Linked DNA regions of Homo sapiens. The protein of the gene in region 2 purifies or fractionates together with the protein of the main gene of each other region. This does not show direct contact. Each region holds a gene or a part of one and is shown on either strand. Other genes may lie near its edges.

What was found.
Region 1: the proteins of RNF114 (region 2) and DTX3L purify together in Homo sapiens (affinity purification with mass spectrometry, with the first as the bait; one large-scale study listed by BioGRID). This does not show direct contact.
Region 3: the proteins of RNF114 (region 2) and TWF2 purify together in Homo sapiens (co-immunoprecipitation; one large-scale study listed by IntAct). This does not show direct contact.
Region 4: the proteins of RNF114 (region 2) and USO1 purify together in Homo sapiens (affinity purification with mass spectrometry; 2 studies listed by BioGRID and IntAct, with this or other methods). This does not show direct contact.
Region 5: the proteins of RNF114 (region 2) and CBLN4 purify together in Homo sapiens (co-immunoprecipitation; one large-scale study listed by IntAct). This does not show direct contact.
Region 6: the proteins of RNF114 (region 2) and TMEM171 purify together in Homo sapiens (co-immunoprecipitation; one large-scale study listed by IntAct). This does not show direct contact.
Region 7: the proteins of RNF114 (region 2) and IDI2 purify together in Homo sapiens (affinity purification with mass spectrometry; 3 studies listed by BioGRID and IntAct, with this or other methods). This does not show direct contact.

The regions. Positions count from the first base shown.
Region 1 is NC_000003.12:122,570,838-122,574,337, forward strand, and holds part of DTX3L (E3 ubiquitin-protein ligase DTX3L), read left to right. Parts: intron 1-840; coding exon 841-910; 3' UTR 911-3,500.
Region 2 is NC_000020.11:49,939,397-49,942,896, forward strand, and holds part of RNF114 (E3 ubiquitin-protein ligase RNF114), read left to right. Parts: intron 1-899; exon of another isoform or gene 900-1,004; intron 1,005-2,164; coding exon 2,165-2,315; intron 2,316-3,500. UniProt on the Homo sapiens protein: E3 ubiquitin-protein ligase that promotes the ubiquitination of various substrates. In turn, participates in the regulation of many biological processes including cell cycle, apoptosis, osteoclastogenesis as well as innate or adaptive immunity.
Region 3 is NC_000003.12:52,232,659-52,236,158, forward strand, and holds part of TWF2 (twinfilin-2), read right to left. Parts: intron 2,449-3,500; coding exon 2,371-2,448; intron 1-2,370. UniProt on the Homo sapiens protein: Actin-binding protein involved in motile and morphological processes. Inhibits actin polymerization, likely by sequestering G-actin. By capping the barbed ends of filaments, it also regulates motility.
Region 4 is NC_000004.12:75,804,577-75,808,076, forward strand, and holds part of USO1 (general vesicular transport factor p115), read left to right. Parts: intron 1-563; coding exon 564-727; intron 728-1,909; coding exon 1,910-1,996; intron 1,997-3,500. UniProt on the Homo sapiens protein: General vesicular transport factor required for intercisternal transport in the Golgi stack; it is required for transcytotic fusion and/or subsequent binding of the vesicles to the target membrane.
Region 5 is NC_000020.11:55,999,689-56,002,519, forward strand, and holds part of CBLN4 (cerebellin-4 precursor), read right to left. Parts: intron 1,160-2,831; coding exon 1,043-1,159; intron 1-1,042. UniProt on the Homo sapiens protein: Acts as a synaptic organizer in specific subsets of neurons in the brain. Essential for the formation and maintenance of inhibitory GABAergic synapses.
Region 6 is NC_000005.10:73,123,575-73,127,074, reverse strand, and holds part of TMEM171 (transmembrane protein 171), read right to left. Parts: coding exon 3,062-3,500; intron 1-3,061.
Region 7 is NC_000010.11:1,023,060-1,027,185, reverse strand, and holds the start of IDI2 (isopentenyl-diphosphate delta-isomerase 2), read left to right. Parts: upstream 1-1,326; 5' UTR 1,327-1,370; intron 1,371-2,441; 5' UTR 2,442-2,462; coding exon 2,463-2,604; intron 2,605-4,126. UniProt on the Homo sapiens protein: Catalyzes the 1,3-allylic rearrangement of the homoallylic substrate isopentenyl (IPP) to its highly electrophilic allylic isomer, dimethylallyl diphosphate (DMAPP).

The DNA.
Region 1 (3,500 bases), on a different chromosome or scaffold from region 2:
CAACTTCTACCCTGCCAGCTATAAAGTACTATGGAGTTATTTAAATTTTGCACCAAAGGACAGGGGGCTTTTGAATCCGAGATGAATACTATATAAGCTGATTTAATTTGAGGCGTTGTGTCTATCTGAAGGCTAGATGCTCGGAATGTCACTTTGCTTCCTTTTAAGGTCACCTTTCTTTTTCACCCCTTCCCCCACCAGTCCACAGAGAACCTGAAATCACTTGGCCAATAATATTCTAGAAAAAGTCTAAGTTGTGAGGAGACTATTGGTAGAAACTGTATTATACGAAATCCAATTGTTCTTTATGAAACCCAAATAGGATTCCTCAGACCCTTGGCACTAAAGAAAAAATATATACCCTGAGACTTTTCCAAAACCTTAAATTTGAAAATCCTACTAGCATGTGATTACGATGCCCCCCTAAAACACAGTATATTATTATATTTTTAGGAGAGTCACTACTTACCATAAACTGAAAAATTTTAAGAATTAACATAGACATGAAGCCTCAAAGTAAATCAACGTATTACTATTCATCTTGGATTCTCAAACCCCCTGCCCTTTGATGCGAAATGTAATAAATACATCATATTAATACTTTGTAGTTGGCAGGGTAGAAGCCAGCTTGAAAGGCAGATGCTGGCCAGACAGCTAGGCTCACTCGCTAGCGAAATGACTCGCATCTGCGAATTTAAAAGTCATGATACGTCATCCACCTTCAGGATTACTTGTGAATGTTTGCAACACTGGATATTAATTAAATCCTTAAATGCTGGATATCTATTGCACATATCCGAACAATTTGTGGTGACACTAAAGGAATTTTTGTTTCTTCAGGTATGGCTATCCTGATCCTTCTTACCTGAAACGTGTCAAAGAGGAGCTGAAAGCCAAAGGAATTGAGTAAGACAACTGCTGGAAGATGTCTTAAATCAAGCTTTCAAAAAAATATATTTTAGGAGGCTGATTTAATGCCAGTCTAAATCCTTATGTAGAAAGGACTTTGAAATTTTTCTTCTCAAGAAATGGTTTGTATAAGAATAACAATCTGCTAGTCTGTCATTTCTGGAGTGATACTTTTTTTTTTGAGACGGAGTCTGCTCTGTCGCTCGCGCTGGAGTGCAGTGGCATGATCTCGGCTCACTGCAAGCTCCGCCTCCCAGGTTCATGCCATTCTCCTACCTCAGCCTCCCGAGTAGCTGGGACTACAGGCGCCCACCACCATGCCCGGCTAATTTTTGTTTTTGTATTTTTAGTAGAGACAGGGTTTCACTGTGTTAGCCAGGATGGTCTCGATCTCCTGACCTCGTGATCCGCCCGCCTCAGCCTTCCAAAGTGTTGGGATTATAGGCGTGAGCCACCGCGCCCAGCCCTGGAGTGATACTTTTTATGGAAGACAAAAGCCCCCCAAATCTGTGTAAAATCTGCTGCAAAGGTGTCATCCCTCTTGTGTCATCACTGGGGTTAGAGGTGGGTCCGAAATAATCTTCTGTGTCCTTCAGTTGGACTCTCGGCTGCCAATTGATCTCTTTTTCATTGCCATCTCTGGGGTGGTTCTTTGGTTTTTTGTGTGTTTTCCCCTTCATCTCTACCTGTGAAAGTGAAATTCTATTGTAAATGGGAGGAAAAAGGGTTGGTTGTGAAAAATTAAAGACCCACATTCTGCTTTCTTACTCATGGTAAGAAAAGTGGCCATGAGTAGAGATTGGGCAAGCATTGGTAATAAATGGAATAAGACTATTATTATTATTATTTGAGATGGAGTCTCACTCTGTCACCCAGGCTGGAATGCAGTGGTGTGATCTTGGCTCACTGCAACCTCCACTTCCCGGGTTCAAGCGATTCTCCTGCCTCAGCCTCCTGAGTAGCTGGGATTACAGGTGTGTGCCTCCACACCCGGCTAATTTTTTGTATTTTTAGTAGAGACGGGGTTTTGCCATGTTGGCCAGGCTGGTTTCAAACTCCTGAGCTCAAATGATCCTCCTGCCTTGGCCTCCCAAAGTGCTGGAATTACAGGCATGAGCCACCACACCCACACAAGACTATCATTTTTAATGACCAAGAGCCTAGTATATAGTTGGTGCCTGTCTTAGTCTGTTTGTGTTGCTATAAAAGAACACCTGAGACTGGGTAATTGATAAAGAAAAAGGTTTGTTTGGCTCACAATTTTGCTGGCTAGAAGGTTGGGCATCCGGTGAAAGCCTCAGGCTGCTTCCATTCATAGCAAAGGGCAGCCAGTGTGTGCAGAAATCAAATGACAGAGAGGAAGTGAGAGAGAGAGGTGTCGGGGAGGTGCCAGGCTCTTTTTAACAAGCAGTTCTTCAGGAACTAAGAGTGAGTCACTCCCATGAGAACAGCACCAAGCCATTCATGGGGGAATCTGCCCCCATGACCCAGACCCCTCCCGTTAGGCTTCACCTCCAACACTGAGGATCAAATTTCAACATGAGATTTGGAGGAGGTCAAACAAACTAAACTGTAGCAGTGTTTCATAAAATTGTTTGCCTGACTCAGGTTGCTAGTAAGCCAGCAGAGGGATATTTGCCTCCTAAATCTTTGGCAGAGGCAGGAGTAAGGAAGCCATTTCTGGAGTCCTTGCTACTAATTTGGAAAACTGAGCTTCTTTCTTTCATTGCTTTTTCCCTTAAGAGACAAGTCCTTACTATATTGCCCTGTCTCTCAAGGGAAGACATCAAGACTGGACTTGAACTCCTGGGCTCAAGCCATCCCCCAACCTTGGCCTCTCGAGTAGATGGGATTATAGGCATGTGCCACGGTGCCTGACTTGAGTTTCTTATTCTAGAACACTTGGAGCCTGAACTCTGACCAGGCCCCTCACTTGAGCCTTTGCTTTCTGCTCCTTGTAAACTGCCATATTGGGTGCACTTGCCCTGCCACAGTAATGCTATATATTTCTGAGCATTGTTTTTCTCTAGATAATTTTATATTTTTGAGTATACCCCACTTCCAAGTGTTTTTTGTTTTGTTTTGCTTTGTTTTTGTTGTTGTTGTTTTGAGACAGGGTCTCACTGTGTCCCCCAGGCTGGAGTGCAGTGGCACAATGACGACTCACTGCAGCCTCAACCTCCTGGGGCCAAGTGATCCTCCCACCTCAGCCTCTCAAGTGGCTGGGACCACAGAAGTGCACCACCATGCCTGGCTTTTTTTTTTTTTTTTGGTCGAGATGGGGTGTCCCTGTGTTGCCCAGACTGGTCTTGAACTCCTGGACTCAAGGGATCCTCCTGTCTTGGGCTCCCAAAGTGTTGGGATTACAGGCGTGAGTGACCATGCCTAGCTCACTTCCAGGTTTAACAGACAAAATAAACTTACTCTAGTTTCCATCTCTATCATTTTATAATAACCGTAGCCCACATTGTAGTAGTTTTTCAGCTCTTTACTAAGTCCCACCAATTCATGTTTTCACCCTTAAAATCTTTCTCACTGATACTCTCTCTGGACAGAAAAAAGGTGAAATAAGCCTACTATAAGGAATATAT
Region 2 (3,500 bases):
GTAGAAAATGGTCAAGTGTTCAGAAGATGGCCTTTCATTATATATCTTTAGTTCTTTCTGGCAGATTTGGTTATACTGTCTTAATCTATCAGGTTGGGTAAGTAGCCCAGGGTGTCTTCTCCATTCTTTCTGTATGCCTTATCTCAGCATTACCATCTTCCTAGGCTTCAGGATAGGAACTCGGTCATCTTTGACTTCTTTTCTTCAAAGTCAGTAAGTTATCAAGTCCTCCTGATTCTACCTTTCTGTGAATGGTTTCCTGAATTCATCCCCTGCTGCTTCAGTCAGACCCTCACAATCCTCTGCCTTTAGCCATCTGTTTGGTTTCTACTTTGTCTCTTCTCACCTTCTCACCTAAAAAAAAAAAAAACTATAGGGCTGGGCTCAGTGGCTCACACCTGTAATCCCAGCACTTTGGGAGGCCAAGACGGGTGGATCACCAGAGGTCAGGAGTTCGAGACCAGCCTGGCTAACGTGGTGAAACCCCGTCTCTACTAAAAATATAAAATTAGCTGGGTGTGGTCATGCGCGCCTGTAACCCCAGCCACTTGGGAGTCTGAAGCAGGAGAATCGCTTGGACCGGGGAGGCAGATTTTGCAGTGAGCCGAGATTGCACCATTGCACTTCAGCCTGGGCAACAGAGCACGACTCTGTCTCAAAAAAAAAAAAAAAAAAAAAAGTAACAAAACTTTGTTTTCCATGATAGCACAGAGATATTTTTCTGAAACCTGGATTTGGCCTTGTTTTGTTAATACCTTCCTTTTAAACTCCTGGCTCCCTACTGTTTATGAGGAAAAGTCTGTTAGATTTTTATTTCCTCAGATACATATCAATTTTAAGCCTAAATTAGGCCTAGAATAGTCTTCCCTTCCTCTGCTAGCTGACCTCTTTTTTTAAAATGCCAGAGGGGTAATGGGCCAACATCTGTAACAAGGTTCGAGGGTGGCACATCTCACACATGCACATGAACACCCAGTCCTCAGGTTCATGAACTACAAAAGGATCCATCTGAACCCTTTTTTTTTTTTTTTTGAGACGGAGTCTCGCTCTGTCTCCCAGGCTGGATGGAGTGCAGTGGCGCGATCTTGGCTCACTGCAAGCTCTGCGTCCTGGGTTCATGCCATTCTCCTGCCTAAGCCTCCCGAGTAGCTGGGACTACAGGCACCCGCCACCACTCCCAGCTAATTTTTGTATTTTTAGTAGAGACGGGGTTTCACTGTGTTAGCCAGGATGGTCTCGATCTCCTGACCTTGTGATCTGCCCGCCTCGGCCTCCCAAAGTGCTGGGATTACAGGCATGAGCCACCGCGCCTGGCTGAGCTGAACCCTTTTAAGGCTGATCAGAGATGCCGTCTCTGCAGTCTTCCCCTCCACCCCCCCCTTGAGACAGAGTCGCACTCTGTTGCCCAGGCTGGAGTGTGCAGCCACCTCTGCCTCCCAGGTTCAAGCAATTCTCCTGCCTCAGCCTCCCGAGTAGCTGGGATTACAGGCATCTGCCACCATGCCTGGCTAATTTTGGTATTTTTAGTAGAGACGGGTTTCACCATGTTGGTAAGGCTGGTCTCAAACTCCTGACCTCGTGATCTGCCTGCCTTGGCCTCCCAAAGTGCTGGGATTACGGGCGTGAGCCACCGCTCCCAGCCTTCACTGCAGTCTTACCAGCCCTTTCCTTCTCAGGTCACTAGTTGATTTTCCCTTTATGTTCCTGTAGCGCTTTGCCTTCACCTGTAATGATAGCAGCTCCCGTTTGTGGTGCGTTTTGTAAGGGCTGGACACTCTGCCAGGGGTCTGCTATACAAACTGTATCCTCCCAGCAGTCCTAGAGGTAGGTACTACTCTCTCCATTTCACAAAGGAAAAAATGGAGATTCAAGAAACCCCACTGAGATCCTTCAGTGGCAGGGCCTAAGGCTTGAAGCCTCAACCTTAACACCTTCACTGTGTCTATCACAGGAGTTTGCATTTGTTTCTGTAGTTGTGTGTTCTTTGTAGTCCACTCCTATCCCTCATTTTTTCTGGCTTGGAAGGACTTAGTATTTGAACTGGGAGGAGAGAGCAAGTTGTTTTTTACTCCATTATCCATTGATGTCTTTTTAAAAGTTGATCCATATTTGTCGTCTTGTCTCCATGATGCGTGACAGAGGTTCTCTGTATGTCTTGTTCTAGCTTTTGCTCTGCATGCCTGCAGGAATGTCTGAAGCCGAAGAAGCCTGTCTGTGGGGTGTGTCGCAGCGCTCTGGCACCTGGCGTCCGAGCCGTGGAGCTCGAGCGGCAGATCGAGAGCACAGAGACTTCTTGCCATGGCTGCCGTAAGAATGTATGTGGAAGTGATGTGGAAGAGTCCATGTCTTTCCATGATAAGTTGGGGTAAAACGTACAGCTGCCATGTTGTTGCTGAAGTTAGAGCATGACTAGGTCACTAACAGCACGCGTGCATGCCAATTACCTGTGGTGATGGCTGGGCTGGTTTGTTTTCATAACCTTACTGGTTTTTGTTTCTTTTTTTAAGAGTTGGTTAAGTATATATTTTAGGTTTGAAAGCCATAGAAATCAGTTATCCCAGTTTTTTCCTATAAAAGATCAATTATGGCCAGGCGCGGTGGCTCATTCCTGTAACCCCAGCTCTTTGGGAGTCCGAGGCAAGAGCTTGAGGCTAGGAGTTAAGAGACCAGCCTGGACAACATAGTGAGACCTCATCTTTACAAAAAAATAAAATTAGCCGGGTGTGGTGGTATGTACCTGTAGGCCCAGCTACTCAGGAGGCAGAGGCCAGAGGATCACTTGAGCCCAGGAGTTTGGGATTACAGTGATCTATGATCATGCCACTGCACTCCAGCCTGGCTGACAGCAAGACCCTGTCTCTTAAAAAAAAGTCAATATGAAATCATTGGATTGTAATAACAATAGCTAACATTTGAAATGCATCCATGCTCTTGTATAATCAGAGTCAAGTATATTTATTTTCATACCTGTTATAACTGCTACTGGAAAGGAGAAATACTGTTGTCTTATTTTCCAAGAGATATACACAGCCTTGTTGATTTTAGAATCATTAAAATTTTTAAAATTGCAGACCATACAAAAGTACACAATAATGTAGGCTTGTTCCTCATTCCAGAGATTACTTCAAAATTCGTTCAACTTAAGGCCTGGCAAGGTGGTTCATGCCTGTAATCCCAACACTTTGGGAGGCCAAGGTGGGTGGATTGCTTGAGTCCAGGAGTTCTAGACCAGCCTGGACAACATGGTGAAACCTCGGCTCTACTGAAAATACAAAAAACTAGCAGGGCATGGTGGTGTGTGCCCGTAGTCTCAACTGTTCGGGAGGCTGAGGTGAGAGGATGGCTTGAGCCCAGGAGGCAGAGGTTGCAGTGAGCTGAGTTCGTGCCACTGCACTCCATCCTGGGTGATAGAGCCGGACCCTGTCTCAAGGAAAAAAAAAGTGATTTAATTTCGAAAGCTGCATAACATTTTCTGCCCTTTGACAAACACTGTAGAATTT
Region 3 (3,500 bases), on a different chromosome or scaffold from region 2:
CCTACCAGACCCTGGATAAACAGACATCCTGCGGCTACCTGCCAGCTGCAGTCCCCTCGAAAATGTCACAGATCCTTGCCGGGCGCGGTGGCTCACGCCTATAATCCCAGCACTTTGGGAGGCAGAGGCAGGCGGATCGCCTGAGGTTGGGAGTTCGAGACCACCCTGACCAACATGGAGAAACCCCGTCTCTACTAAAAATACAAAATTAGCTGGGTGTAGTGGCCTGTAATCCCAGCTGCTCGGGAGGCTGAGGTGGGAGAATCGCTTGAACCCAGGAGGCGGAGGTTGTGGTGAGCAGGAGATGGCGCCATTGCACTCCAGCCTGGGCAACAAGAGCGAAACTCCGTCTCAAAAAAAGAAAGAAAATGTCGCAGATCCAAAGCAGCCACCATCTAAGTGCCTAGGCCCCACAGGCCTGCTAGCTCCTTGGCTGAAATGGGGCATCCAGCTGCACTTGTAGACTGGGACCTCATCTGGGCACCAGACACCAGCCTGGGTATACACAGGTCTAGCCTGGAGCAATAACTGGGGCAAAGGGGCAGTCAGCCTGGCTGGGGGTCCTGGTGTCAGTCCACCAGACTCTCCTGATCTGGGCAGGGGCCCCGATGCCTGGACGCCCCAACAGACCAGGCCCTCTGAGGCCTCGGCCTCCTCACCTGCCCACCCAGAACTCAGACAGGATCACAGTCACAGTGACTTTGAGTAGTCACGGCCTGTGTTGGCCCCTACAGCACTGTCAACATTGCTTAATTTGTTGCTAACATTTTCAAACTGGGAAATTTTACATAAGAAGTAGAATTCTCAGCCTCTCTAGAAAAATCAGGCCCTCTGGCCACACTGGAGCCATCCTCAATTGGAGATGGACAGTGGCTGCCCATCGGGGGCCTGGACCCTCCTGGGCAGTCCCAGGTACCCCAACAACTGTCATGCAGAACTGAGATAAAAGTCAATCCAGAGATTCCTCCTGCTTAAAATCTTCAGGGACGGCTGGGCACGGTGGCTTATGCCCGTAATCCCAGCACTTTGGGAGGCCGAGGTGGGCGGATCACGAAGTCAGGAGATTGAGACCATGGTGAAACCCCGTCTCTACTAAAAATACAAAATTAGCCGGGCGCAGTGGTGGTCGCCTGTAGTCCCAGCTACTCGGGAGGCTGAGGCAGGAGAATGGCGTGAACCCGGGAGGCGGAGCTTGCAGTAAGCTGAGATCACACCACTACACTCCAGCCTGGGTGACAGAGCGAAACTCCGTCTCAAAAAAAAAAAAAAAAAAAAAAATCTGCAGGGACATCTTGTCTGGGAGGCAACAGGGAGGGCCGAGGACTGGGGTCAATGAGTACAACTGCCTTTTTAAGGGTGGGGTGGCTGTGGCCTGCCACTCCAGGAAGCCATCACTAATATTCTGCCACAGTGACCCCTGCCCAGTCTCTGAGGGCATCAGAATTTGGACTCCCTGGGCAAAGCACTGCCAAGGCCCTAAAACCTGGAATGGCAGATCCTGCTTTGAGCCAACACAACGCGTGGAAAGCCAGCTGAGCACCAGGCCCATTCAGGCAGCCATCCAAAGTGCCTGCTGCTGAATGGCTAATGAGAAGAGCTGGGAGGACCTCTGGGGAGCCTGGCCCACCCCAGTCCCAAAGTCTGTACCCCTCACCCAAAGGGACAGTCCATTGGCATGGAGGAAAGGTGAAAAAATGTTCTCTGGCCTCTGACCTCCCAATCCTCCTCAGTTTAATCCTCTGCCTCCCCAAACCCTCCCCACTTCAGGCCTCAGCTCAAGTCCCAGTGTCCCCAGCACTGCCCTCTATACAGCTCCCAGGTCCTCAGGGGCAAGGCCAAAGCCCAGCCAAGCCTAGAACCCTCCCATCCTACTCTCAGATGAGCCAGACACTCATCCCTTCTCCCCATCATGGGGGCACTTCCAAGAGAAGGGTGCAGGATCTCCTTAGGTCTCCCCTCGGACAGCAGCTGAGCCAGGCCAGGCCACCAACAAATGAGGCGGGTGGCACCAGCCACAAGGGGCAGTGCTGGATTCACTTATCCCCTGCCCCTCTGCCCAGCCCAGCTCGGCATCCTGGCCAGGCCCATCTGAATATCCATGCAGCCTCTGGGAGGTGGCAGGACCCCAGGACAGGGCTCTATTTGCTGACCCCAGCTTCGGCTTCCTGCTCTGCATAACAGAGGTGACAATTGCGCCCACCTCTGATGCTGCCCTGTGAGGCTCTCCTTTGTCAGGATGGCCTCACACCCATTTCCAGAGTGGGAAATTGAGGTCCCGGCAGGCCAGGGGCCAACATCCTCCTTCCCCCACCCACAGAGGCAGCAGAGTCCACCCCCAAGCCTATACCCTGGCCTGTGAGGGGCACTCACCGTCCTCAATCACAACCTTGATGAGCCGCACAGAGCCAGCCCGTGCCTTGGCAAAGAATTCCTTCAGCTCTTCCGTGGCTATAAGAACAAGAAACATGGTGGGGGATGAGTGGGCAGAGTGGACAGAGACGAGTATGGGGCCTGCTCTGTCCCACAGGGTCTGGTGGCTGAGCTGGGAACCAGGTTAAATACAGCCCCCCATGTGACTGGGAACCTGAGACAGCCACTGAACACAAGCTCCCAAATTTAGCCAGCAGAGGTGGCAGGCGAGTGGCCTGCTGGCTGGGATAGGTCTGGTGATGGGGCGGGGTGGGCAGGGATGGGACAACCCACCAGAAGATGGGCAGGCTCTGGCATAAGCCAGGCCAGCCACAGTGAATAGCCTCCATCTGCCCCCTGCCCCGCAGGATGGCCGAGCTCTGGGCTGGCCTGGACACACTCAGCACAGTCATATACACAGAAAAAAGAACACAGACAAATGCCCCCACTGTGCAATGACCACTATGCCCATTCACACACACACACACACACACACAGCTCAATCCAGCATGTGTGAATGTAACACACAACACGCATGTGTGACAGAGGAGCAGAAATTCAAACACCCTCATACATGAACACATGCTCAGTTGCTCAAACACAAATGGACACGCATGTTTAGATACACAAACACACACAGAGATATAGTCCCCGGCTTGCTAACACGCACACAGGCAGGCAAGTGCAGAGCTTGGCTGAGACGTGTGTGCAGGCAACAGGATGTATCAAAGTGTACACAGAAGCACATGGACACGCATGACACCCATGTGTGCAGCCCCAGTCCCAGCCCTCCAGCCAGGCTGTCTAACCCTGAGACCCCGAGGAGCCACAGCCAGCCCAGATACAGCCCTGTGGGGGGTGGGGGGACAACATGACCTTAACCCTCAGGCAGTTGGGGCAGCTTCCAGGAGAAGGAATGGCTCCCCGAAACTCACTAAGAGACTCCATCTTGGTCAGGTGCGGTGGCTCTCACCTGTAATCCCAGCAATTTGGGAGGCCAAGGCGGGCAGATCACCTGAGGTCAGGAGTTCAAGACCAGCCTGGCCAACATGGCAAAACCCCATCTCTACTAAAAATACAAAAATTAGCCA
Region 4 (3,500 bases), on a different chromosome or scaffold from region 2:
ATAGTGTTTCTGATTTAATAAATCTGGGATTAGGTCCAGGGATCAGTAACTAGTATAAGCCCACCAGGTGATTCTAATGTATAGCTGATTAAGAATGACCGCTGTAATCTTTCAGTTTCCTCTTCTGCAAAATGAAGATAGTAATAACATTTGAGAACTAAATGATATAATAAATGAAAAATTTAAGTTGTGCCTGGAAAATGGCAAGAGCTCCACTGCTTTTAAATAGTATTATCCTACGGTGCTTGTGAAGATTTTTTAAAAGGATTTTATTTTCTCATATTCAGTTGACAGAATTGGAATTAAAATTACTGTAATTCTTAATCATAGATCACCAGACCATGCAGTTTAGTCAAGGCTGTGCTGTTTTTTCTCCCAGAAATCTGGAAAATACTATCAGTTCACTATTTTTATCAGTATACCATTCTGCAAAGATGAAATGTGATTGCAAAAGTGCTGCCAAAGTAATTGAATGAAGAAAATTACATATTTGAATCTTCTACTTCAAAAATGAAAAACTGAAGTTTCCCGTTGGCTTTTAAAATGTTATGTCTGTCTAACAGGAAAAGACAATCAGCATCAAGGTTCTTACAGTGAGGGGGCTCAGATGAATGGCATTCAGCCAGAAGAAATTGGTAGATTGCGAGAAGAGATAGAAGAATTAAAACGTAATCAGGAACTTTTACAAAGCCAGCTGACTGAAAAGGACTCTATGATTGAAAATATGGTAAAGTAAATGTTTAAGAAGTTAAAATAAGAGTTCAAGAGTGGTTCTCATTATCCTGCCTTTTTTTTTTTTCCTTGGATCTCTTAAGCCAGAATATCATATGTTAAGATTTTACAGGATGGGCCAGGCACAGTGGCTTACGCCTGTAATCCTAGCACTTTGGGAGGCTGAGGTGGGCGGATCACCTGAGGTCAGGAGTTCAAGACTAGCCTGGCCAATATGGCGAAACCCTGTCTCTACTAAAAATACAAAAATTAGCCGGGCATGGTGGCAGGCACCTGTAGTCCCAGCTACGCAGGAGGCTGAGGCAGGAGAATCTCTTAAACCCAGGAGGTAGAGGTTGCAGTGAGCCGAGATCACCCCACTTCACCTCATTGCCTGTGCGACAGAGGGAGACTTTCCATCTAAAAAAAAAAAAAAAAAGATTTTACAGGATGAGCTTTAGAGTCAAACTGTTTAAACTTCAATGCTTCCTGGCTCATTGAATTTAAGCAATTTAGTTAACCTCTTTAAACTTGTTTCCTGATCTATAAAATGGTAGTGGTAATGTCTAGTTCATTGTTGTGAGATTTAATTTACTCTTCTAATAGATGGAAATTATTTAATAAATGTTTGCTTTTATGCTCTTTCTCCATATGAACGCAGGTAAATGCTTAGATTTAATAAATTGCTCGGTAAAATAAAAATTTTATTTTTTTTTCTTTAGAGACAGAGTCTCGCTCTGTTAGCCCAGTCTGGAGCGCAGTGGCACAATCTCGGCTCACTGCAACCTCCACCTCCCAGGTTCTAGCAGTTCTCCTGCCTCAGCCTCCCGAGTAGCTGGGATTATAGGTGCACGCTGCCACGTCCGGCTAATTTTTTGTATTTTAGTAGAGATAGGGTTTCACCGTGTTGCCCAAGCTGATCTTGCATTCCTGAGCTCAAGCAATCCACTGGCCTTGGCCTCCCAAGGATTACAGGCATGAGCCACCGCACCCAGCCTACAAATGGATTTTTAGCCATGAAAAAGTTGTAGACAATATGTGCTGTGTTGGAATTTTATCTTGGGCATAAAAATTAAAAGGTTGGTGTGAATTTTTTGGTAAGCACATATGATATAGTTTATATGTGTACAGTTCTGTTTTTTTTTCTCATCTCTTTAGACTGAATATATTTTATAGTTTATTTTTGTGCTATTTGCAGAAATCTTCCCAAACATCTGGCACAAATGAACAGTCTTCAGCAATAGTTTCAGCTAGAGATTCTGAACAAGTTGCAGAATTAAAACAGGTAATTTTCCACTTTGATCCAATTCTACTTTGTCATGTTTTAATTATAATAGAATAACAGCCCTATAGTTTCACAAATCTAGAACTATATTAGCAGATGTAAGTAAAATTTAAGTTAAGACAGCCATTTGAAAATCCAGAAGCTGTTTCTATTTATATGGTAATAGTACTTTGCTTTTTATTGTGTTTTTATTTTTCAGAGGTATTCCTTTTAAAAAATCTCAGCATCTCACCCATGTTATTTATAGATTATCAGTGAACTAACAAGGAAAAATTTAAATTTATAACTTGCAAATATGAAAATGTAAAATCTTATGCCTAATTTTAATATACTATGATAATTGCTTGACTAAATGTATGGGGTTTTTAAACTGTTTTGTCTAGAAAATATAGAATTTTAGAATTGGAAAAGAGAAGAAAGGTAAACTTACCTATATCTCAATTAAATGACTCCAGCTAAAAAGCAAAATAAACTTTTTCTGTGGTAATTTATAACATCTAGAAAAGCAAGTTAAACTTTTTTCTACTTGCTTATAGTATTTATAAATTCCTGTTAAACTAGATCATACAGATTTACCTTTATCCAATGAAAAAATTTAAATGTATTGTTCAAGAAAAGAATCAAAAGAGAGAAATGAACTCTGTATACTTACAATTAAATAATGTAGCAATTGGAAGAAAACTCTAGAGTATATTATCCCTAAACAGGTTCTGGGGTTGTTTTTCTTTCCTCCTCTCTTTTCTTCTCTCTCTTTTCTTCTTTCCCTCCTTTCTTTCTTATTATAAAAGAAATGCATACTTTTTTTTTTTTAATCCAAGCAATACTAAAAAATGACCATCCTCACTAACCTAGGACTAACTGTCTTCCTTCTCTCTCCACTAAGCAACTGGCCCTAGTCCACTGACATGGCTGCTTTGAAAGAGAAATGACTGAACATAGAGAAATTTTGTCTTATTTTGATAATGTCCATGTACCTCAGAGTAGATTCTAAATATCTGACCTCTTTTTAAAAAAAGAATCACTTATCATTTGAGGATTTTCAGGTCTCCAATATTTGTTCACAATGTTTTATTTGTGTGGGAAGATTAATATGCTCTTTTGGTTTTATTAAGTGTACCTATACTAGAACTGTATTAAAATTAAAGGGAATTAAGTTACTAATATATAGCCTTAGTTTGTAAATTCTAAGTAAAAATAAGCCATTTAATTATCTTTCCCAGTGAAACTTTAATTAGATATTTTTATAAAAAGAGAATTGCCTTTTAGTTTTTTTACTTTCTCCAGTTTATTTACTTTTATAAACTTTAGATTGTTAAAATATATGTATTTTTTAAGTGACAGTTTTGTTTTTTATAATATATAGTAAAGTACTATATATAGAAAACTGTAACTCATTTTAATAACTAAACAAAATAAATTAGAAAAGCCACAAATGTACATGATAGAAATTTTAAAGAGAACCAAAAGAAAAGAGCCTTTTACTTGCCATTGTCCCACCACTTAC
Region 5 (2,831 bases), 6.1 Mb from region 2:
TGATTTTAGATTTAGATTTTAAATTTTAGAGATTTCAGTGACAGATAATTAGAATCAACTCAAAACTGTATTAACTATTTTCTATTCTTCAATTTTGATTACACTGTGTCAAGCATTGCATACATTTCTAAATATTGGGGGTTGGGAAAACTTTTCCATGGAAGTAAGTTTGTTTTCTAGATTTTTTTAGGTTAAAAGTCATATGGAATAAATTAAATCTGAGGCTGATCCATTTATCCATTTACTAGGACATGTAAAAGTATTAATAGATAAGCATGTAATCTATCATTCATATTGACATAATGTATAACATAAATACTGAGCATAAGATAAAAGGTTATCTTAGAATTCCATGCACATGTATTTGTGTCATTTAGTATTAGCATACTGGAATATTGTTGGAACAAGCTCCACTGTTGCTTTTGAATGTAAGGTCAAGCCCATTGTCTTAGAAAGCAGAACACAAAATATATTAACTGTGGAACTGCAGTTGGTAAGAATTCACTAGCATCAGAGTAACTGAGGATAAACACAAGCATACGCATAGAACACCGTTTTTTAAAAATGTATTTTGAATAGTTCCTCCTTCATAGACTTATTCTTACTGATTAGCTGTATCTCATAATTTTAAAAAATAGCAAATGTGTTTTATTTATTTAGTATGCACTTGTAAAGCTGTACTAGTCTTACAAGTTTTTTTCTTATGAGTTCAAGTAATTCTTGTACATGCATTAAATGAAAGCATGATCTTACAAAGAGATTTGTGTCACTGAATTTTTACTCAACCATGGATTTTTAAAAAATGTTTGATTGTTATTAAGGTAATAACTTCAATTCTCTATTTTTCTATACGCTTTTTGTCACGTCTTAATGGATGTTAAAGAGAAAAAAATTAGAAATTAAGTGTTTTAAAATAAATGATAAAGATGGCTGCTTATTTCTATTGTGGAAACACAACTTTGGATAAGTACTTAAATATATAACCCACTAAAGATAAGCACAGTTGGTTGAGAGTATGGATGGAAGAGGTCAAAACACACACCTGGATAGTTTGGCTCTGGTAGACTTTAATCACGTGAAAACTGAAACTGTAAATTCCTTTTCTTGGTGCTACAAAGACAGACTCCAATGTGAAAAAATTACCCACATTCACCAGGATCTACAAATAAAAATAATAAATAACAATAAGTTATTATATTTTCTTCTGTAACTAAAATGAATTTTCTTCCTCTCACTCTCTTCCTCTCCTCTTCCTTCTTTCCCTCCTTCCTTCATTCCTTCCTTCCTCTTTCTTTCTTTTCTTTTTTCTTTTGTTCATTCATTCATTCTTGGCAACTAGCTTAAGAAATCATAGAAAATAAAACATCTAGTTCTGTATCTTTCCTCTTAACTGATTTGGAAAATTGACTGGAATACTGGAAGGTTCTTCTGTCTTTTAAATGATATAAGAATAAATAAAGTAACTGCTTTGTATTCATGTCTCAATTTCCAGCAAGGCCCAATGGCTCTGGAAACATCGAGCTAACATTTGAGAACTTATAAATATTAGCTTTACCTTGAGAGTTGGATAAAAGGCACCCGCTATGTGTTTACATTCCCACCTTCTACAAGCCTTTGCAATGTCCAGAGGTGACGTTTCCAAGCCAGCCAATCAGCATCTGTGAGCTCTCCGCAGCATCCCTGGACAAACCACAGAGGCATGGGTACCCCCTCCACCATGTGACATAATCCTTGACACTGAACAGTTGGTGCACAAAGTGATCTGAATGCCTGGCCCTTCTCTGAGCCACCACCACCCCTCTCCTAAGATCTGTTACCATTTTTTTTTTCATTCCTGTGCCAGCTAGGCCTTAATTATAATAATGTGGCAATGAGTCAGCCCTTGTGGGCTGCCAAAGAGGAGAGCATAGAGAAGGCTAAACTATGAAATAGGTGGCTTTCCCTGTTCCTCCCCGGGCTGTCCATTAACCTCCTATCAATCACCTGCTCTTTATTTGAAGTTCAAGGTTCAAAAGTGAAATTAGATACTGTTTCCCAAGAAAGCAACAATGCATTTTGTATTCCAAAATATTCAGCCTAGTTCTATTGGTTATAAAATTAACTCTAAATTTTAATAAGTGACCTCTTAAGCTAAATTTGCAATGTCACATGGGTAAGTCTCTTTCTATGAGAAAGAGGGATTGGGATGGAGGATGGATGTTAAAATAACCAGGGTTTGTTCCATTTCTTTCCAAGAAATACACCTGTAAGTGGCATTCAAAAATAATAAGAGGTCCCTAAAAAGATATACTTCTCATATATCAATGGCAATCTGCTACTATCTCTTTCGAACACTGCATTCTTGCCAATATTAACACACTTGCAAGCCTCTTGCATAATTCCCTAAAAATGTACTATTACCTCTGGGCAACATACCAGAATGTAGTGACAGTCAAGCAGATGTATCAGGCTCAACACCTAACTTAAAACACATGTACGTGTATAATTTCATTCTGAGATTTCGCCTTCTTCCAAGTAAGCATCAGATTTTTTTTGTAACCTGATGATAGATGGTCTTTCAACAAGTCACCAGCTGTGCAATAATCCCCAGCAGAGGCTTTACAAAGAAATTTTTCAAGCACAATTAAAATAATTTGAGGTGCTTAGTGGTGACTTCCTGATTCAGATACAAGTAGCATAATTCATTAGCAATAATGAAAATAGCTGATTAGTGTTGGCTACATATAAAACTGGATGTTGACTCTACACTGTAATTGGAGCATCCAGGTACATCGAGATTTATAACCAAATGTGTGTTCTTGTCTCTAAGATGCAAGGCTCACTGAAAAGAA
Region 6 (3,500 bases), on a different chromosome or scaffold from region 2:
TACCAAAATTTCACCCATACAGATGAAGGTTGAACCCAAAGAAGTTTGGTTTTTGCATTTCTGTGGCTACTGTTCACTCCAGAATACATCCTCATGTTTTGAGGAGAAACTAGGGACCAGATGCAAACTCTAATTTGTATTCCGATTCCAATATAAAATGCACCACACAAGTGGACCAGAACAGTGTAGAGCTCTGGCAGCACCACTGCTGGGGGCCTGGTGAAAGCCTCTGAGAAGCTGGCAATAGCAATAACAGTTCAGAAAAAATGAAGAAGATGGGGCTTTACTTCCCTGTAGTGGTTCACACTCCTAGCATGTCTGATGCTTGCTTAGGGTGGCATAGGATTCTTTAAAGTGATGGGGGTTCCAACCTGAACAAGCTAGGCGACCTCCTTGACCTCAGCCGCCACAGCTGTAAACTGCAGGCCAGGCAGTTCTTGCATCACAGGACAGATAGAAGGAAGGACTAGATGGACTGATTTGCATCTGGCAGTGAACACAGTGCGGAGCACAGAGCCAACTCTCTCAGCTCAACACCAGCCGAGGGCACTGATTTGCATGATGAAGAAACACCACAGAGGCAATTGGCCACTGGCTCCACTCTCTACCCTTCATGAGCCACAGCAGCCTCAATCATTTCCCAGAGGGAATTTAGCCCTTCAGAAAATGCATTAATTCCATCTCCCCTTCCTTCTCCAAGGAGAAGGCAATGAGAGTTTAAAATACGTTTTGCTAATCTAAAGGTGAGAAAGCATAATAGCGGTCCTGAGATTCTCATTTACTTTTTTAGAAGGTCTTGGTAGGTTAGAGGAATTGGGGTTGTGTTCACTTCCATTACACACTGTAGAATAAAGAACCTGTGAAGTAACCCTTGAGGGCAGGCCAATCACCTCTCAAAAACACACAAGGATATGCTCCAGTAACCCTGTTACCTCCAAGGGTCTCCAGCCCTTTGGCCCAGCAGCTCCGCCTGCCCACACCCTGCAACCTGCTCTCCCTGGAAAGAGGCCTCTCCTCTGCGAGTTCCCTTTCATGCGTCTTTCAGAACTTGATGTCCTCTGTGAGCAGACAACATATACACCCCTCCAAGGAGAGCTGTCTCATATACCTGCTGTGTATCCAGGATAGCACTGAGTGTACCCACAACAAGGAGAGCATGCTTCTTGGATTCTAAAAATGTAAACCCTATTCCACAATATCAAAGGAGAGGAATTAGGATGCAAGATTTTCATAGGTTTGATGGGGACTTAAAGAGTTAAGTAGAAAAGATTTTAAACCATGCAGTGCCAACTTCAGGACAAGGACACCAGGAGCAGCACCACAGCTCTGTCCACTCTGATTCCAGCTACCAGGTGGAAGGCTGGGCCCCAAAACTCCCCTCGAACCGTTCCCAACTAGATGAAAGCATAGCAGCGTTGGATGAACATATTTACTTGTACCCCACGGTGTTCCTCAAGAACACTAAGAACATCTATCAAATTAAAGGGAGCCCCTTTTTTCATGTAATAACTTCCAGGAACACTTGGTGAAGGATAAAATGGAATCACACCCACGTGCCCTGGGCAGGGTGCTATGCAAGGGCTATTCTGTGGGTGTGCCCAGACACTTGGGTTGGAACCTTGCTCTACCACTTGCTAGGGTGTGACCTTAGGCAAGTCACTTGATATCTACATGCCTCATCTTCTTCCTGTGTAACATGGAGGTACTAACGTTATCTGCCCCCTTGGATTGCTGTAGGTGTGAATGAATTTCACACAGGGGACCTTTAAGAGCACATGATAAAGCACTTAAATGGGTGTTTGGCACAAAAATAGACCCTATATAAGTGTTAGCTATTGTGAATATATAACTAATATTTGTGTTGTCACCATAAATATATTAATGCATAAATATATTAATAAATAAGCTGGGAGCATCTACCCTGGCTCTACACAAGGAATGGCTGCAGATCCATCTGCCCCTCCTCTCCAAGGCTGGTGCCATGCAAGTCCAGCAACCCAGTTCCTCCCCTCCAGGCTGCAGTCAGTGAATTCCACTGCTTCCAGTAGACAGCCCCAAACAGGAGATGCATCTCACTTGTCACATTCCCTCTCTGTCCTCTCCATGGTTTCTGTTCTGAAGATCTCTTTTCCTAGCCTTTTAAATGTCAGTGGTTTCACAACTTTACTCTTTCAAAAGTAGGAGACTGAAAAAAAGTGATCTGCCAATGAACAGCGATGGGGTTTTTCCTTGGTTGTGTGAAGCTGAGGCCAACGCTACTGCTATTGTTCTGAGGGGGCAGGCTCTGGGAAATGGCACTCCATCTCTTCTGTAGAACCCGGGGGACCCAAAAGGAACTTGTAGGCATTCCACGGGAGAAAGGTGCTGTCATATTCCATCTTGGTTCATCCCGCTGCTTCCAAGCTTTGCCTCAGCCCTGCAGCCACGGATGATGTCACAAAAAAAGAAGGACAACACAGAGACAGTGCAGAGGCCCCTCAAAACACCTGGAGACTGCTGGACTCAGACAGATCCAGAATCCTAGAATGTTAGTGCTGCAGGAATCTTAGAGAGGCACTGCTCATTTTATAGAGACATAAACCAAGGCAGGAGAGGTTAAGGACTTACAAGGACAGCCAGCTAGTGACAGCCTGGGAGGAGAAACCAAGTGTCCCACAACTAAAATGCTATGTGGTTTTGGTGTGAGAATAACAGGGGTAACAGGGTCACTTAGTGAGTCCCTAAGGTGGCAGAAGGCTCCAAGGCTGTCCTCATGGTTCTTCTCACTTTCCTCTTAATTTGCTCTGTGACCTCAGTCAAGGTCACTACTTAATATCCCAATGCTTTGCAAAGTAGGAAAGAGTTGCTGGGGGGGAAAAGATGTATACAAGGTTCCTACGGGGCTTCCCACAGCAGCACCATTGTGTATGTACACATGATGGGGGTGTGTGCGTGTGCACACACATGTGTGAGAGATGGAAGAATTGAGAAAGAGAATCCAGACGAGAACCAAGAGCAGCTGGTGAAACCCTGCTGCAAAGCCACTGTGATAGAAGCAAGAACGCAAATAACAGCAACCCACCTACAGTGACCTGGACAGGCTCCATAATCTGGATCTGTCCCTCTTCTCTCTCAGAGGCATCCTGGCCAGCATTCAGCGTGTTTCTCTTCTTAACATGGGCAACCACGAAGAAACACAATCCCACAAGCACAATCAAGGGCCCCATGATCTGCAGAGAAAGGAACCCACACATCCGGGGCTCTGAGTCGCCAGTGTCTGTCTCGTTTAGCGGTTCCTGCGCCCAGTTGGAGCCACATCCAGGGACCCAAATGCCCAGGACGCTGATGAGCATGCCGCTTGTCAAGAACAGAAACCCAAAGATAAGGCACTGGGCAAACTGGCGGCTCTCTCCACAGATGAAGGCTCGGTCGGGGTCCATCTGCTGACCTCTCTGCAGCCCTGCACGGAGCTGAAGTTGCGCCCGGGAGCGGGCCAGGATCACAGCCCCAAGCCCAACCAC
Region 7 (4,126 bases), on a different chromosome or scaffold from region 2:
GGCACAAAGGAAGGACACAATGTGTGTCTGGCTGTCTTACTATTATTATTATTACTATTAGAGTTGTTGGATTATAATAGGTACGGTATTGTATATTAGTTTCTTCCTCAAAGCCTAATTCATAGACTTATTTATTATTTTTTAGATCTTTAAAAGAGTATCATTCTCCCATTCTTACTCTTCTGACTGCAAAAGAAACAAGTTTCAAACAGACCATTTATTCCTGAGTCTCAGAACTGATTTCCAGGGAAAACATTTCAGGCATAGCCTTTTGATTTTCTACGTAACTAAAAATTACATGCATAAAGGTGAACTTATGGAAAGACAAAAGAGCAAAACACATTAATCTTTTTATAGAATATTACCCATCACTGCTGCTGTGTTATTTTTGTTCTGTATTATCCGTGCCAAAGTCAGCGGAGTCATGCGTCCATCGTGCTTCTCTCCTCATATTCCCTGAGAGAACCGACAGATATGGCAAACATTTTTTTGATATTTTAAGAGACCCTACTTGCAAAACTATTTGGCCTAGAGCTTTAGTTGGTAGATGATATTTGGAATATGATAGGCAAGAAATTATACAGTTTTTTAGCTCTTCCAAACACATTGGTTTCCAAGGTCTTGCATTTATTTATCGATTTTCAGCTATCCTAAGAATTTATTCAGTAATTTTAGTCACAATGTTTATTATTTTTCTCTTCCATTTGCCACCTTTATTTTTTCTTTTTAAAATCTGGGATGATATATACAGCAAGTGAATTAAAAAGATGCCATCGAACGGCGCCGTGGCTCACACCTGTAATCCCAGCACTTTGGGAGGCCGAGGCGGGCGGATCACCTGAGGTCAGGAGATGGAGACCAGCCTGGCCAACATGGTGAAACCTCGTCTCTACTAAAAATACAAAAAAATTAGCTGGGCGTGATGGCGGGCGCCTGTAATCTCAGCTACTCGGGATGCTGAGGCAGGAGAATCGCCCGAACCCGGGAGGCAGAGGTTGCAGTCAGCCGAGATCACGCCACTGCACTCTGGCCTGGGCAACAGAGCTAGACATCACCTTAAAAAAAAAAAAAAAAAGAAAGCCATAGAGTAGAAAATAACTTACCCTAGGTTTAAAAACTAAAAGCATTTTTTAAAGTGAGATTGTGTCAAAACAATTTTCTATTATCCCTCAATTGAGAGGGAGAAAGATAGAGAGAAAGAGATGGAGAGATAGAGAGAGACCGGGGTGTGTTTTCTTGTTAAGAATACAAAAATATCAGATTGCCTTAGCTGATATCTTTCTACATCCCCAGGGTATAAAAGGGCCCTGGTTCAACTTGCACATTGAGTTCCACATCTGATACCCAGGAGTCTCCAGCTTCCAAGAGAGGTTAGTGCATATGTTTTACCTTGTGGGAATTCTTTCTTTTATGATCTAAATTTGTACATATTCAGTAATTGTTTTCTCTGCATTTCTATTGTATCTCATGTCCATGCATTAAGTCAAACAGCCTTTTGCAAAGAGGAGGAGCAGATTGCTGAAAATATTAACAGTAATGATAATGGACAGACGTGAATGCATTTTTTTAAAAAGTAGAAAAGGATGATGAGAAGGTTTTACATGAAGATAAATGACCCTGAAAACATTTTTTTTTTTTTTTTTTGAGACAGAGTCTCACTCTGTCTGCCCAGGCTGGAGAGCAATGGCACGATCTCGGCTCACTGCAACCTCTGCTTCCCAGGTTCAAGTGATTCTCCTGCCTCAGCCTCCTGAGTAGCTGGGAATACAGGCATGTGCCACCAGGCCTGGCTAATTTTTGTATTTTTTAGTAGAGAGAGGGTTCCACCATGTTGGCCAGGCTGGTCTCAAACTCTTGACCTCAAGTGATCCTCCCACCTCGGCCTCCCAAAGTACTGGGATTACAGACGTGAGCCACCGCTCCTGGCCCTGAAAACATTTTGTGAGAAGATCTTCACCTAAGAATCTGCTTGGCTCTGAAGAGGACCATAGCCCTTCTGTGGGTGACGTAGCTTTCCTACAAGGCTGTGTGTTTCTCCACGTCTGATCCAGGTCCAGTGGTTTTGCACAGGGCTGCACTTTTCCCCAAAAACTTGTACAAAGAGTGTTACCTACAGTTTACCTCGGTGTGTTTTGTGTGTGTGTGTGTGTGTGTGTGTGTGTGTGTGTGTGTGTGGTGGGGCGGGGATTCTTTAACTCGTCACTAAAGGAAACCTGGAAAACATGAGGAGTATGTATGTACCCAAGATTTCCCGTTCAGAGAGACACCACATTAGAAACAGATGATTCACCTTCCATATCTCAGAACTGTGCTGCTTCAACACAATTGCTGTCACTTGTAGAGAAGGTGTATGCTAAATCCTAATGTGGTTGGTAACACATAGCAAAAACGAGATGGCAATATCTTTCACATAAAGAGGCATTTGTGTGCATCTATTTCAGGTCGGGTCACAGCCAGCAGCTATGTCTGACATAAATCTTGACTGGGTTGACAGGCGTCAGTTGCAGCGCTTGGAGGAAATGCTGATTGTTGTGGATGAGAATGATAAGGTTATTGGTGCCGACACCAAGAGGAATTGCCATCTGAACGAAAACATTGAGAAAGGTAGCCCCCGCCCATTTTCTCTGTCCAGTTCCCAGGGTTTTCCCATTTTTCCCACCCGACGGCAACCTAAGAAGAGAGTCTAGGCCTTTCCGGCTAGGAGGCGACCACTGGGTCACCTGTGTGCTTGCTGTGCCGTCTTTAGAAGGCTCGGGGAGCAGCACCTGGATGACGTCTTTGCTTGGTCAAGCCCTTGTCAGGCTCCTGCACCTTCTCCTAGGCATCCGTGCTCTTCCTCGTAAGATCCTGTTTCAGCAAGAATTCTACCAGGTTGTTTTAGCGAGAACCCTGACCTTGGCATCTGATTAAATTCCTCAACCCCGTCCCTCCCAGGTGACGTCTGATCACGCAGGCCTGTCTTCAGCAGGTCTTGTTAGGTCGGTGTAGCCAGAACCCCCTTCCCACTGATGTTTTCTCTTAGTAACTTTTAATCCATAGGCCCCAGCCTGCTCCTTGGGTGTTGTGTGCAGTTAGGCTGGTTCTCCATGGAGGTCTCTTTCCCCTATTGAAATGGTTCTCAGTAAAGTCAGACTTTCCTGCTTTAACTCCTGTCCAGCTCTGGTTTTCTTTGACCATCTTAAGCCATTTTATTATTTTTTAATTTTCATTTTTGTGTCTTTTTTATAAACACATAATAATTATGCATATTAATGGGGTACATGTGATAGTTTGATACCACCATGTCATGCATAATGATCAAATAGGGCATTTTGGGATATCCATCACCTCAAACATTCATCATATCTTTGTGTTGGGAACATTCCAAATCCTCTGTTCTAGCCACATTGAAACATATAATACACTGTTGTTAACTACAGTCACCCTACTGTGCTATTGAACAGCTGATATTATTCCTTCTCTATCGCGGTATGTTTATACTTATTAACCACCCTCTCGTCATCCCTCCCCACTGCCCTTCGCAGCCTCTGGTGTCTAGCATTGTGTTTTCTGCCTCCATGAGATCAACTTCTTTAGAGCCCACATAGCAGTGAGAACATGTGATACTTGTTTTTCTGTGCCAGGTTTGTTCCACTTAACACAATGGCCTCCAGTTCCATCCATGTTGCTACAAATGACAGGATTTCATTCTTCTTTTTTTTTTTTTTTTTGAGACAGAGTCTTGCTCCATTGCCCAGGCTGGAGTGCAGTGGTGCAATCTCAGGTCACTGCCAGCTCTGCCTCCTGGGTTCATGCCATTCTCCTGCCTCAGCCTCCCGAGTAGCTTGGACTACAGGCACCTGCCACCACGCCCAGCTAATTTTTTTGTATTTTTAGTAGAGACGGGGTTTCACCATGTTAGCCAGGGTGGTCTCGATCTTCTGACCTCGTGATCCGCCCACTTCAGCCTCCCAAAGTGCTGAGATTACAGGCGTGAGCCACCGCACCCGGCCCGATTTCATTCTTCTTTTGTGGTGGAATGGTATGCCACTGTGTATCTAACCCTCATGTTTTCAACCCTTCAAACCTCCACGGACACAGGTTGATCTCATATCTTGGCTGTCGTAAATGGTGCTCAGCACCCAGG